Linked DNA regions of Homo sapiens. The protein of the gene in region 2 binds, or shares a complex with, the protein of the main gene of each other region. Each region holds a gene or a part of one and is shown on either strand. Other genes may lie near its edges.

Region 1 (7,521 bases), on a different chromosome or scaffold from region 2:
GAAGTTCACAATTAAACCTAAGAGGATAATTTACTATAGATAGACGTGAAGTACCTAAAAAGAAATGAATATCCAATCTACACCTATATAATGGCAAAAATTAGAACTAGAGTTTCAGAGTCAGAGGGGACATTAATGTCAGGTCGGCAGGTCTGGGCTCACATCCAATCCAAACCAAGCTTTGCTGAGTGTCCCTTCCCTCCACTTTCTCCTGAATCATTCCCCCTTGGGCTAGGAGTTTCCAAGAAGGCAAATAAACTAAGATAAGCAACAAGAGCAAAGAATGGCAACTCAAATGTGCAGTTCAAGGCTTTGAATACGAATTTTTTTTAACACTAATGAAAAAGGTAGTATCATAGCTCTTAAAATATTGAAATACTTCTCTCTGTCCAGTATCAGCAGATAATGCAGAAAAGCCCATTGGGAACATGTTCCTCTCCTTCAAATGCCACTTAGAAAGCTTCATCATTATTCATAAATGATGAATAGAAGTCTGGGCATGGCCGGGTGTGGTGGCTCATACCTGTAATCCCAGCGCTTTGGGAGGCTGAGGTGGGTGGATCGCCTAAGGTCAGGAGTTCGAGACCAGCCTGGCCAACATGGTGAAACCTCGTCTCTACTAAAAATACAAAAATTAGCTGGGTGCGGTGGCACGCACCTGTAATCCCAGCTACTCAGGAGGCTGAGGCAGGAGAATCGCTTGAACCTGGGAGGCGGAGGTTGCAGTGAGCTGAGATCGCGCCACTACACTCCAGCCTGGGTGACAGAGCAAGACTCCGTCTCAAAAAAAAAAAAAAAAAAAAAAGTAGTGTTTACAATATAAGGGAAATTGGGATCCCATGTTCTAATTCAAAGAATTTAAGGCTATTAACCATTTTAAAGTTCTCATGTTTAAGCTTCTCACTTTATCCTTCTTTATTCAAGAAAATCCATAATACAAAGTATTGGCAAAGATGTGAGGAACTGGAACTGCCATACACTGCTAGTGGGAGTGGAAATTGGTGTAACCACTGTGGAAAACCGTTTGACGGTATCTACCAAACCTGAACATATCCCTTCCCTATGATCCAGGAATTCTACTTGTGGGCATAATCCTTTATACTGGTGTTTATGTCCACCATATATAAAACAATGTTCACAGCAGTGCTATGCATAATTACACAAAATTGGAACAACTTCCATGTGCTTCGTGAACATAATGGATAAAATAAATTATAAGATCTATTCATACCACGGAATGGTACCAGCAATTAAAAAAAAAAACACTGCTACAGAGAACAAGGTTGAATCTTATTATTATAATGTTGAGTAAAAGAAGGTGGACATAAAAGAGCACACGATGATGGTTTGGTTTACATGAAGTTCAAACATAGGCAAAAGCAATCCATGGCATCAGAAGTCAGAATAGTGGCTACCTGGGGAGGGGGTACTGACAGAGAGGGTGGAGCTAGAATTGCTCTATATCTCAGTCTGATCGTGGTTATTTGGGCACGTACATATGTGAAAACTAATGAAATTGTACTCTTAAGATGTGTGCATATTTACTGTGTGCCAATTATACTTCATTTAGAAATATCTGGAGAGAGAGACATAGAAATTTCTGAATTCTTTCCTAAATAGAAAAGAATTCCATGCAGCTTAAATATCGTTGCAAGTATTGATGCTTATACCTTTAGAAAGCCCATTATGCTTCTGAAAAATGCACTTACTACTTAATATCATACATAATAGAAAGCTAACATTTTGTATTAACGGAATCTGGAAAACATATTGTACTACACATTTGAAATTACAGATTTACTAACTAGTAAAGATAACTATTTAAGAACTAAAATGTCTTTGTTTTTCAACTCTTTTCCCCCGATTTCCATTTTTTACTTTTTATATTTCAGAATTATTTGTAACAAAAGCTATTGGATATAATTCCTGCACTTCTATATTGCAAGCATTTTCTCTATTTACCACAGAGACTTCAAGTCCTAGCATTTCAGAGCTGAAGGGGACTCGGACGGACTCCCTCACTGCACAGATGAGGACGCGGAGGCCGGGGGAGGTGAGTGTCAGTCCCAAGGTTGCAGACCTAGGACAGGGACCGGAGCTGCCGGGCACCCAGAACTCTGTCGCCTTCAACCCAAATTCGATTCAGTCCTCTCATCTTTCCAAATAGAAAGCTGACGCGAACCGATGGGAAGATTTTTTTTTTCAATAACAACTATGCTACCCAGCAGATTCTTTGGGGACAGTCCTCGGAGTCCTTGAAAACCCCTTTGGGGTTTATGCCAGGATAAGAAGAGACTAGAAGAAAGGGACAGCTAGTATTTTAATATGTAAATCTGTTTGCATAATATTTCCTAGGTAAACTATTCGTTGATCCAACCAAAATTCGGCGGGGCTGGGGGGTATCGTTATTGAGGATGACTCGCTCTAGGGGAGAACGCGGACGCATTTTCCCATCAGAGTTCCCTCCATAAATCAAAACCTCAAAAGAAGAGTTAAAGACGACACCCAGGTGTCTACAGTATCCAAGGGCCGGGCCAGGAGAGGTCCTTGGCCACCTGGCGCCGAGTTCGCGGCCGCAGACTCCCACGGACGGCCCAGCACCCGAGCGCGCGGGCCGAGCTGCCCCAGACCCGGCGCAGCGCCTCGGCGAGGCCGTCTGCGAAGTCCGGGCCGCCACTCGGGACCGCGGCCCGAGCCAGAGGAGAGACTTCGGAGAAGAGGGAAGAGGACGCGGGGTGGGAAACGCCGGGGCCGCAGGCAAGTAGTGGGCGAGTCCGGAGGGCGCGAAAGAGGGGAGGGGCGCGGGAGGCAATGGAAGGAGCGAGCGCGGGGAGGAGCGAGGCGGCTGGGCCGGAGGAGGCGCGCGCCCGGGTCCACACTGCGGGGTGGGGGCTGAGGGACCGCGAGGGGCTGCGAGCGAGCGAGCGGGGCCTTACCGAGCAGCGGCAGCTGGCCGCCGTCGCGCGCCAACGCCGGCATGGCCTCCGGAGCCCGGGGTCCCCAGGCCGCGCCGGCCCAGCCCTGCGATGCCGCCTGGAGCGGCGCGCCTCGCGCTGCAGGTGGCTCTCTTAAGGATGCGCGTCACCGACCGCAAATTCCCTCGGACTGGTGCAAAGTGGAAGGGGGGAGGAACCCTCTCCCCAGAGGCAGGGACCGAGGCGGGAGCGGAGAGGTTGGGCAGAGCCGAGCAGCCGGTGCCTGGCGCAGCGCTGCAGCCGAGCCCACGTGCCCGCCGCGGTCCGCAGCCTGTGCTCGGCGGCCCCCGGGGCTCCCCGACTGCGGCGGGGAAGATTGGGCGCGGTCCCGCCGGAGAAGTTGCACTGGCTCCGCGGCTCTGCCGCCTTGCTGCCCCTGTGAGTCCCCGAACTCTGTCGTTTGGATCCGGGGCGTGGGGACTGCAGGGAGCCACAAACCACCCTCCTAGTGCGCTGGGATCTTTGAGGCCCTGAGAAAGGCGCTGAATCCGCTCGGCACGCTGGCAACTCCCGCCAGCGCACAGGCGAGCATTCCATTAAGAACCATTCCATTCTTAATTGTGGACTGATTTCCTTTGTCTCTGCCTCCATCTCCTAGGATGCTCAGGACCCAGTCAGCGGCGGGATCAAGAAAAACAGGCAGGGTTTCAATGTCAACCAAGGCAATTAGGGAGGTTAACAAACAGCCTTCAAAACAAAACACACAGAAAATACATCCCAGAGGATGTTGCGAATCATCCGCTCAATAGTTCTTGTTCTTCATCGCATAATTTTTCGAGTTGAAAATTATTATTATTTTCTTTGCAATAAGTTGAGGATTGGAAAGCTCTGGATGCCAGTTCTGGTTCTTCCCTTACTTAACTAGCCGTTTGACCTCCACAAACCTCTGTTTACTCATCGTAAAGGAAAGGGATGGACCAAATGGTTCATAATGTCTCTCCCAATTCTAGGAATTCCACGCTCTTAATTATTTTAATTATTTTCTAATAAAGCATGAAAATTGACTGTTTACTCTTGGCCATACAGTTCTTTTCCTTAGATGTTGTCTACAGTACAATAATTCTTTCCCCTAGGGTATGGCAGAAACTTTAGAAGTGTCTACCATGGTGCAGCCACTATGGAAAACACTATAGAGGTTTCTCAAAAAATTAAAAAAAATACGGTCCAACAATTCCATTTCTGGCCATGTAGCCAAAAGAATTGAAAGCAGGGTCTTGAAGAGATGTCTGTACACCCGTGTTGAAAGCAGCATTATTCACAGTAGTCAAAAGGCAGAAGTAACCCATGTCCACAACAGATGAATGATAAACAAAAATGCAGTATATACATACGACTGAGTATTTTTCAGCTTTAAAGAGGAGGGAAATTCTGATACAGCTAAAATATGGATGAATCTTGACATTATGCTAAGTGAAATAAGCTAGTCCCAAAAAATACAATACTGTATCCCATTACAAATTCATAAAGACAGAAAGTTAAATGGTGGTTACCATGGGCTGGGGGCAGGGGGAAATGGGGAGCCAGTGTTTAATGGATACAGAGTTTCAGTTTTGCAAGATGAGCAGAGTTCTGGAGACTGGTTGCACAACAATGTGAATGTACTTAACGCTACTAAACTGTACACTTAAAAATGGCTAAGGCTGGGTGCGGTGGCTCATGCCTGTAATCCTAGCACTTTGGGAGGCCGAGGTGGGCAGATCACCTGAGGTCAGCAGTTCGAGACCAGCCTAGCCAACATGGTGAAACCCCATCTCTACAAAAATGCAACAATTAGCCAGGCGTAGTGGCGCATGCCTGTAATCCCAGCTACCTGGGAGGTTGAGGCAGGAGAATCACTGGAACCCGGGAGGCAGAGGCTGCAGTGAGCTGAGATCACACCACTGCACTCCAGCCTGGGTGACAGAGTGAGACTCTGTCTCAAAAACAAAAACAAAAACAAAAAGTTAAGATGGTAAATTTTATGTATGTGTATTTTACCTCAATTTTAAATTTTTTAAGTTTTTGTGTAGCTGCTGGGGGTTTAAAAATTTTTTTAAAGAGTGTTGTGTCTACCTTAGGTCAGAAACAGAAGTGAAGGAAGATGGCCTGAAATAAGTGAAACATGAGGAGATAAAGCAATGAAACAGGCTGGTTATGGGGAGAAAAGCGAGCTTCCAATGGCCAAGACCTAACACACTACCTTCTATTTAAAGCTCAATTACTGTCTTAAAGGAAACTGATTGGCTGGGCGCTGTGGCTCATGCCTGCAATCCCAGCGCTTTGGGAGGCCAAAGCGGGTGGATCATTTGAGGTCAGGAGTTGGAGACCAGCCTGACCAACATGGTGAAACCCCATCTCTAACAAAAATACAAAAATTAGCTGGGCATGGTGGCACTGTAGTCGTAGCTACTTGGGAGGCTGAGGCAGGGGAATTGCTTGAACCCAGGAAGCAGATGTTGCAGTGAACTGAGATCATGCCACTGCACTCCAGCCTGGGCAACAGAGCAAGACTTGGTCTTCGCCGGGCGTAGTGGCTCATGCCTGTAATCCCAGCACTTTGGGAAGCTAAGGCAGGTGGATCACGAGGTCAGGAGTTCAAGACCAGCCTGGCAAAGATGGTGAAACCTGTCTCTACTAAAAATACAAAAAATTAGCCAGGCGTGGTGGCATACGCCTGTAATCCCAGCTACTCAGGAGGCTGAGGCAGAGAATTGCTTAAACTTGGGGAGCGGAGGTTGCAGTGAGCCAAGATCGCGCCACTACACTCCAGCCTGGGCGACAGAGGGAGATTCCGTCTCAAAAAAATAAATAAATAAAATGAAAAACTAAAAAAAAAATGAAACTGATTATTACAAATTTGCAGAACATCAGCTTGAGTGCAGCAGTATTCAGGATACAAAATCATAAAGATACTGCTGCTTTGTCCAAGAATCTTGGACACAAGGCAGAGATCTTCATGAAAAAGGGGGTTGGTGAGAGAGGAGAAGTTAGGAATGGTTTCTTTTTTTGAGACAGAGTCTTGCTCTGTCGCCCAGGCTAGAGTGCAGTGGCACGATCTAGGCTCACTACAACCTCCGCCTCCCGGGTTCAAGCGATTCTCCAGCCTCAGCCACCTGAGTAGCTGGGATTACAGGCACCCGCCACTGCGCCCAGCTAATTTTGTATTTTTAGTAGAGAAGGGTTTCACCATCTTGGCCAGGCTGGTCTCAAACTCCTGACCTCGTGATCCACCCTCCTTGGACTCCCAAAGTGCTGGGATTACAGGTGTGAGTCACCGCGGCCAGCCAGGAATGGTTTCTAGGAACACTTGATTTTCCGTGGAAATTGGTGGAAAAAATAATTCTAGAAGGAGCAAATCTTATAGACTGAAATATTTTGGAGTATGAGGTATAGGCTAACAGAAGGTGAAGTAATGCCCATGTTTTTCTGTGATGTGCCAAGAGTCATATCTAATATGAGAACTAATTTCTTCCTCACAGCAACACTTAAGGAAAGTAGCCTGAAATTGTCTAGAGTCCTGGATTACACGCCCAGGTATGCATGCCCAAGTATGAAATTTTGGTGTCAGAGTTCATGATAGGAATTCTGTAATAAAGAAACTCTTAAAGGGTCAAAAGCAACTAGAAGAAATGAGCTGAAACGGGAAATCGGAAAAGAGAAGAGTAAGTTTGTTTCTGGGTTGAATGGAGTGTCTAGTGCTAACTCTACGAAAGGATGTATTTTATCTAGATTCTTAGCACCATGATGCTTAGCCATGAGTAAGTGGTCATCTATCTTACCAGCATCTTGATACCATGTTTCCACCCCTTAAGTCACACAAATATCTCCTCTCCCTTTCCTCTCTCTCTCCAAAAATTGTGACATAGTTTCGTAGCAGCTCACAGGTGAAATACTTTCATGTCATTTTTAACTTACAAAGCCTTATGTTTTCCTGAAAATCAGGGACAAACAAAAGGAATATTTGAATAGGGTTCATGTGAGTTCAGTTGAGATATCAACTTTATAGTATAATTTTACACATCTTTTATTAATAGGGGCTTTGAACTCACCAATTGGCAAAATCTGACAATACAAAGTGTTGACAAGAATTCAGAGCAATGGAGAACACCCACACACTGTTGGTGGACATCCCAATGGGTGTGAGCACTTTGAAAAATAATTTGGCATATCTTACTAAAGTTGAACATATCCTCCAGCCAGCAGTTTCACCCCCAGATATAAACCTCAAAGAAACACATATGTGCCAAGAGACAAGTATAAGAATGTTCATAGCATTATTGTTTATAATATCAAAAAATTGGGAACAATCTAAATGCCCACCAACAAAAGGATAAATTGCAGTACAGTCATAATAAAATACCTATATATTAAATAACAGTGTAAATGAATGAGCTACAGTTACCTGACACACCATGAATGAATCTCAAAAACATAATGTTGAGGGGGAAAAGCAAGTCATGGAATAATAGACATAAAGGCGGAAGCAAACAATATTCTCCTTAGGAATACATTCATAGGGGTATAAGGAAAGTAAAGGAATAATTACCACAAAAGTCAGGATTGTGGT
Region 2 (7,394 bases):
ATTCTATGTTTTGAGACAGGGTCTTGCTCTGTCGCTCAAGCTGGAGTGCAGTGGCCCAATCATAGCTCATCGCAGCCTCGACCTCCAGGGCTCAAGTGATCCTCCCACCTCAGCCTTCTGAGTAGCTGGGACCACAGGTGGGCACCACCATGCCTGGCTAATTTATTTTTATTTTTGTGCAGAGATGAGGTTTCACTGTGTTACCCGGGCTGGTCTTGAACTCCTGGGCTCAAATAATCCTCCCACCTTGGCCTCCGAAAGTGCTGGGATTACAGGTGTGAGCCACTGCACCCAGCCCTCAGAGAGAGGTTTTTGTTTGTTTGTTTTGTTTTTGAGACAGTTTCACTCTGTCTCCCAGGCTGGAGTGCAGTGGCATGATCTCGGCTCACTGCAGCCTCTGGCTCCCGGGTTCAAGCGATTCCTGTGCCTCAGCCTCCTGAGCCACCATGCCCGGCTAATTTTTGTATTTTTAGTACAGCCGGGATTTCATCATGTTGGCCAGGCTGGTCTCAAACTCCTGACCTCAAGTGATCCGCCCACCTCAGCCTCCCAAAGTGCTAGGATTACAGGAGTGAGCCACCACGCCCGGCCTCCTCAGTTTAGAGACCCCTTCTCTCCCTGTTTTTTTTTGGGGGAAGAACCCCTCAGTGGCACCCTTCATCATGGCCTAGGAAACCGGGGCCCCAGAATGGGACCAGACTGCTCCCCATCACCGGTGCCTGGGGACGTGTTGTTCTGTAGGAACAGGGCTCTGCAGGGTGGCGCTTCTCGCTCTACCTTCGTTGGGTGGCTATGGTCCAAATCGCCAATAAGGCCTAGTGGAGCTTTACTTCTAATTCGTAGGAAGGCATCTCCCTCCCCTCACTTGTCCCCTAAGTTGAGGGCTGACCTGAAAGGCACATTTGGTGACAAAGTGTATCTCCGTGTTCACGCGCTCCAGCAAGCCTTGCATCTTGGACCCAGCGACAGTCTTGAGCCGCTCCATCCAGCGCTGTGCCAGGACCAGCCGCCAGAGGCCCCCGCAGAGCTCCTCCTAGAGGGGAGAACCCACGGGTCTGAGGGAGGAGCTGGGCACGGGGCTGCTGGGTCTGAGGGAGGAGGGGCTGGGCCGGGGCTCCTGGGTCTGAGGGAGGAGGGGCTGAGGACTCTGATTCCTGGGTTTGGGGAGGGGAGGGCCTGGTTATCCACTCGCCTCGGTGGAGCATCTTGAGTCTGTGGTCCCCACCTCCATCCCAGGTCCCTCCCAACATGACTTACGTCCTGCAGGTTGGAGGCCACGGTGACTGGGTAATCTTGAAGCAGGTAGTCAGACTGCGGGAGAAAACAGGATCAGGCCTGGCTGAAAACAGCGAGAAACAGAACTGTGGGGACCCAGAGGTGGCAGCAGAGATCCAGAGAGAGAGGGACAAGACCAAGAGAGGGGGAGCCCAGAAGAAGCCACAGAACCTTGCCCTTAAAAAGGGATGACACCCCTAAGCACAGTGGCTCACGCCTGTAATTCCAGCACTTTGGGAGGCCAAGGTGGGAGGATCGCTTGAGCCCAGGAGTTCAAGACCACCCTGGGAAACACAGGGAGAGAGACCCCATCTCTACTTAAAAAAAAAAGTGGGGGGAAGGGGGATCACATGAGGGGGTCCGGGGCAGCGCCGCTCACCAGCTCACGGATTTTGACAGCGAAGTCGGAGGAGATGGGGCTGTGTTGGAAGGAGCAGTCCTGGGTCCCACTGAGTCCCGAGCTCAGCAGCAGCAGCAGGAGGAGATAGGTCTGCAGGGGAGCGGGTGCTGGGGGAGCCCTCTGCTGTTCCACACACAGCCCCCTCCTCCGGGCTTCCCACCTGTACTGTTCTGTCTTCCCCGCTCCTCCTTCCCTGGGTGTCCTTCTGCCTCTTCCACACTTTCTGGAGACATGGCCCCATCTCTGCCTGTCTTTCCCGGTTTCTCTCTGCCTCTGGTCCAATGCTGTCCAGTTTGCATCCCCCTCTGCCCCACCCCTCTCTCTCCCCATCTCCCCCACTCTGCTGGTCTCTCTCCAACCACCTCATCTTCACGTCTGGTTTCCTCGCCCGGGTTCCTCCAGCTCTGTCCCTCCCTCTGCCTTCTACACCACTGTTGCCTGCTTCTCTCTTGATCTTGGTCCACGTCCTCTTCATTTGTTCTTGGCTCTGTCCACCTTCCCTCTCCTCTGTCCATCTCCCCCCTTTTCTGTCCATCTCCCCCTCCTCTGTCCATCTCCCCCCTCCTCTGTCTCTCTTCCTCTCCTCTGTCCGTCTCCCTCCTCCTGTCCACCTCCCCCTCCTCTTCATCTCCCTCTCCTCTGTCCATCTCCCCCTCCTGTCCATCTCCCCTCTCCTCTGTCCATACCCCCTCCTCTCCATCTTCCCTCCTGTCCATCTCCCCCACCTCTGTCCATCTCCCCCTTCTCTGTCCATCTCCCTCCTCCTGTCCACCTCCCTCCTCTTTATCTCCCTCTCCTCTGTTCATCTGCCCTCTCCTCTGTCCATCTCCCCCTCCTCTGTCCATCTCCCCGCTCCTGTCCATCTCCCACTCCTCTCTATCTCCCTCTCCTCTATCTCCCCCTCCTCTGTCCATCTCCCCATCCTCTGTCCATCTCCCCCTCCTCTGTCCGTCTCCTCTCCTATCCATCTCCCCTCACATCTGTCCATCTCCCCTCCTATTTCCTCGTCATCTGTCCATCTGTTCTCCCGTCCATCTCCCCTCATCTCTGCCCCATCCTGACATTGTGCCTCCCCTCTCCCCTGATCTTGTCCCTGGGGTTTACGCACTGTTGGGCTCCAGGCTGGCGCCAGCACTGTCATTTCGGCCGGGGGCCCCTCATGCCTCCTGTCGCCGGGTCTTGGAAGGGACAGAAGAACAAGTCTCGGACCCTCATGCCCCAGCCCCTGCCCTGCCCGCCCCTTTGCCTCCCCGCCCCTCCCGCGTCCCATTGATGTGGCTGAGTTTCCGCCCCTTCCTCCCCCAGGCTTCCTGCGTCTGCCCCAGTTACGGTGAAAACTCTTCATCTCCACTTCTAAGAACCTCGACGTCTGGTCCCCAGAACCCTCCCCAGGTTAGGGACCCGGGAACCCAGCCCCCCACCCTCTGCTCCCCCTGCCCCAGGAGTGGGGACCCTGGCTCCGCCCCTTGGGGACCTAGAGTCCAAGTCTCCTCACGCACCAGGCTTGCCCCAGTTGGGTGTGGAAGGGGCCAAGCCGGGTGACAGCCAGAGACCGAAAGTGAAAGGAAATTTTTGGGGGGAGACAGTCAAGGGGTGGAATCTGGGCCCAGGCGGAGCGCGCCCCCTGGTGGTGAGAGGCGGCCGCTCACGCCGCAGATGGCGCGTTCTCCGGACGCCCCGCAGCGGGGGCTGCAGTGGGGCTGACTCCCTGGGTGGCACGCCCAGTGCATGGTGAGCTGGGGCTGGAACCCGGATCTGTCTCTGGGAACTCGCAGTTGCTGTGTCTTACCGTCCTCCGGGCCCCAACTTTGCCCCGCCAAGGCTTGGCACACAGGACTCAGGATGCATCTTGTCACATTGGGCCTGGCAGGTGTCGCCCTAGCACTAGCTTTATCACTGTGGGAGCTTGGCCAGCCCCTTGACCTCTCTAAGCCTCGGCTTCTCCAACTCCAAACTGAGGGGTGAGGTGGTACATGAGACAAAATAGAAGCTCTCTTCCACATCTGTGGATCTCTGAATCTCTGAAGCATTTTTTTTTTTTAGATGGGGTCTCACTCTGTTGCCCAGGCTGGAGTGCAGTGGCACAGTCTCGGCTCACGGCAACCTCCGCCTCCTGGGCTTAAGCAATTCTTGTGCCTCAGGCTCCCAAGTAGCTGGAATTGCAGGTGCGTGCCACCATGCCCGGCTAATTTTTGTATTTTTAGTAGAGACGAGGTTTCACTATGTTGGCCAGGCTGATCTCGAACTCCTGACCTCAGGTGATCAGCCTGCCTCGGCCTCCCAAAATGCTGGGATTACAGGTGTGACCCATCACGCCCATCCTGAATCTCTTGCTCACCCATCTGATCCGTGGCAGACTGTCCTGAAACATCTGCTGCCCCCACCCCCCCAGCAGGAGGATTCGAGGTCCCATCCTGGGGAACTCGGACATGGCCACACTCACTTTGGCCAGTCACATGAGGGTGGAGGTGACAGGTGTCACTTCTGAATGGAAGTCTAAGGGACCGGGGAGTGGATGGTGGAGGATGCATGGAGAGAGCGCCTCTATCAGCCAAGTTTCCTGTGCCACTCGGAGGAGCACAGGGATCCTGCCAGCCCCGGATGAGCACAGGGAGTGTAAGCAACAAACTAATGTTGTGGTTGTGGCCCACGCAGATTCGGGGGTTATGTGTTACTGCAGCAAAGCCTCGCCCGTCCTGGCCTTCATCATCCATTTCCCTTCCCTGATCCCTCTGCCTGCCTCACTTCCTGTTCAGCCTGGGTTAGCTGCCTTGTCGCACCCAATGGTCAGACCTTCCATCTGGCTAGAAAGATTTAAATGAAGCAGAGAGGCAGAGATACAAGCCCCAATAGCTCATGTGGCCCATGGACAAAGGACCTGCTCTAGCTCCTTCCTGACCAAGTCCTGGGGCCCCTCAATGTGTGTCCTGCCCTATCGCCCTATTGCCTCTAGGGAATCTCTGTAGCCTTCCAGAAGACTCCTCTCTCTCTCTCTTTTTTTTTTGAGACCGAGTCTCGCTGTGTTGCCCAGGCTGGAGTGCAGTGGCACGATCTTGGCTCACTGCAAGCTCCCCCTCTGCCTCCCAGGTTCAAGCAATTCTCCTGCCTCCCAGATAGCTGGGATTTCAGGTGCCGCCACCACGCCTGGCTAATTTTTATAATTTTAGTAGAGACGGGATTTCACCATGGTGCCCAGGCTGGTCTCAAACTTCTGACAAGTGATCCACCCACCTCGGCCTCCCAAAGTGCTGGGATTACAGGTGTGAACTGCCACACCTAGTCCGGAAAACTCTCATTTTTTTTTTCTTTGAGATGGAGCCTTGCTCTGTTGCCCAGACTAGAGTGAAGTGTGTGCTCTCAGCTCACTGCAACCTCTGCCTCCTGGGTTCGAGTGATTCTTCTGCCTCAGCCTCCTGAGTAATTGGGATTACAGGTGCCCGCCACCACACCCAGCTAATTTTTGTATTTTTAGTACAGACAGGGTTTCACTGTGTTGGCCAGGCTGCTCTCAAACTCCTGACCTCAGGTGATCCGCCTACTTCGGCCTCCCAAAGTGTTGGGATTACAGGCCTGAGTCACCGAGCCTGGCCTCTGAAAACTCCCTTTTATCCTAAACTAGTAAGAGTGGGTTTCTTACATCAAAAAGAATTCTACTTCAGGTGTGGTGGCTGATGCCTGCAGTCCCACACTTTGAAAGGCTGAGGCGAGAGGATCGCTTGAGGCCAGGAGTTCAAGACCAGCCTGAGCAACGTAGGTAGACTCTGCCTATTAAAAAAAAAAAAATTAGCCAGGCATGGTGGTGCGTGCCTGTGGTCCCAGCTGCTCAGGAGGCTGAGGTGGGAGGATTTTTTTTTTTTTTTTTTGAGACGGAGTCTCACTCTTTCGCCCAGGCTGGAGTGCAGTGGCTCGATCTCGGCTCACTGCAAGCTCCACCTCCCGGGTTCACGCCATTCTTCTGCCTCAGCCTCCCAAGTAGCTGGGACTACAGGCGCCCGCCACCATGCCCAGCTAATTTTTTTGTATTTTTAGTAGAGACGGGGTTTCACCGTGTTAGCCAGGATGGTCTTGATCTCCTGACCTCATGATCCACCTGCCTCGGCCTCCCAAAGTGCTGGGATTATAGGCGTGAGCCACCACGCCCGGCCGAGGTGGGAGGATTGAGCCCAGGTCGAGGGTGGGTTCAGTAAGCTGTGACTGCGCCACTGTATTACAGCCTAAAAAACAGAGCAAGATCCTTTATTTAAAAATCAACAGTCGTGCGCAGTGGCTTAAGTCTGTAATCTTAGCACTTTGGGGAGACCAAGACAGGCGGACCGCTTGAGGTCAGGAGTTTGAAACCAGCCAGGCCAAGATGGTGAAACCCCGTCTGTACTAAAAATACAAAAAATTATCTGGGTGTGGTGGCGCGAGCCTGTAATTCTAGCTACTCTGGAGGCCGAGGCAGGAGAATCGCTCGAACCTGGGAGGCGGAGGTTGCAGTGAGCCGAGATCACCCCGCTGCACTCCAGCCTGGCCGACAGAGAGACTCTGTCTCGAAAAAACAAAAAACAAACCAAAAAAACCCACCCACAACCAGAATCCTAAGGCAGTGGTGTGCTGAAGCGGCTCGTATTGGCTCATGGGAGCTGACCTGTTAACAATTCAGGATCTCGCAGGCAGTTGTTTAATCACCTGTACCTTGAAATCCGGCACGGTGGGAGCATTTACATCATGGAAATTGACAAAAGTCATATAGGAGGACTTTAATTTTATTCCAGAGAGTTCCTTTACTGCATATGGATTCTGGGGCCATGAAAAGGTAGAGAAAACCAGAGAGCAAGAGCCACCAGATGGAGAAGACAAGAAGATATGAGAGTCCTAAGGCCCTGTCTGGGGTCCTCGGGGGTCCCCTTTCTCTGTTTCACAAACACAGCACCGTGCTGGAGCCGGCTCCTGAGCTGCTCAACCTCAGAACTAAAATGGCCTCGAGCCAGGTGTGGTGGTGCATGTCTGTGGCCCCAGCTACATATGAGGCTGAGGCATGAGGATCCCTTGAGCCCCAGAGGTCGAGGCTGCAGTGGGCCGAGATTGTGCCACTGCGCTCCAGCCTGGGTGACAGAGCCAGACGTTGTCTCAAAAAAAAAAAAAAAAAAGAAAAAAGCCTCATATCTGCCAGAAGTTGCTACACCCTTTCTTCTCGCAGAAGCACAGCTAGGGTTGGTCAGAGAGTTTATTGGGAGACACAGGAACCAGAAGGGGAAAGTCCCAGGTGTCTGTGGGGTGCATCTCCCCTTGGTGTGAGGTGTCCAAAATGCAGTAGGTGGCGCTCAGGCATCAGTCCCCCATAGGCAGCCACAGGGCCTTGGTCCGCGCCACTCGCAGCCCCAGCTCTGGGCCTGCCCCCTCGGCCTCCTGGTCCCAGGCCCGCGGGCAGCCCCTGCTCGCCCACACCGGTTTGAGGTTTCCTGCCGAGGCCCACTCGACAAACTGGGAACCCTGAGGGGAGGAAGAGACGGGGGTAAGCACTTCTGCAGGCTTGTTGCTGAGCACCTGCTTCCTCCGCGATGAAGACTGTTACTGACGAGGGGCTTCAGGCTGGACCCAGGCTCTGCAGCTACAATGCCCAGCTCCTCCCAAGCAGAACTTCCAGATGGTAGGGAAAAGCACTGGACCCAGTGGTTAGGGAATTTCCTCTCCCTTAACAGCCCATGTTGAAAGGAATGGGCCCCAAGGCTCTTGT

The links.
Region 1: the proteins of FLT3LG (region 2) and FLT3 are in contact, whole or in part, in a crystal structure (PDB 7QDP), measured with the Homo sapiens proteins. Residues at the interface, in NP_001191431.1 of Homo sapiens: His34, Ser35, Pro36, Ile37, Ser38, Ser39, Asp40, Lys44, Lys87, Glu99, Asn102, Thr103, Glu104, His106, Phe107; in NP_004110.2 of Homo sapiens: Asp180, His279, Gly280, Phe281, Gly282, Met300, Ser301, Thr302, Tyr303, Asn306, Arg307, Met309, Arg311, Ser333.

The regions. Positions count from the first base shown.
Region 1 is NC_000013.11:28,097,532-28,105,052, forward strand, and holds the start of FLT3 (receptor-type tyrosine-protein kinase FLT3 precursor), read right to left. Parts: upstream 3,046-7,521; 5' UTR 2,980-3,045; coding exon 2,937-2,979; intron 1-2,936. UniProt on the Homo sapiens protein: Tyrosine-protein kinase that acts as a cell-surface receptor for the cytokine FLT3LG and regulates differentiation, proliferation and survival of hematopoietic progenitor cells and of dendritic cells.
Region 2 is NC_000019.10:49,470,062-49,477,455, reverse strand, and holds the start of FLT3LG (fms-related tyrosine kinase 3 ligand isoform 1 precursor), read right to left. Parts: upstream 3,242-7,394; 5' UTR 3,175-3,241; intron 3,094-3,174; exon of another isoform or gene 3,005-3,093; intron 2,871-3,004; exon of another isoform or gene 2,854-2,870; 5' UTR 2,817-2,853; coding exon 2,784-2,816; intron 1,783-2,783; exon of another isoform or gene 1,766-1,782; coding exon 1,655-1,765; intron 1,340-1,654; exon of another isoform or gene 1,312-1,339; coding exon 1,258-1,311; intron 1,034-1,257; coding exon 890-1,033; intron 1-889. Other genes in the region: ALDH16A1 (aldehyde dehydrogenase family 16 member A1), read right to left, coding at 6,989-7,150. UniProt on the Homo sapiens protein: Stimulates the proliferation of early hematopoietic cells by activating FLT3. Synergizes well with a number of other colony stimulating factors and interleukins. Required for the development of B cells, and dendritic cells (DCs).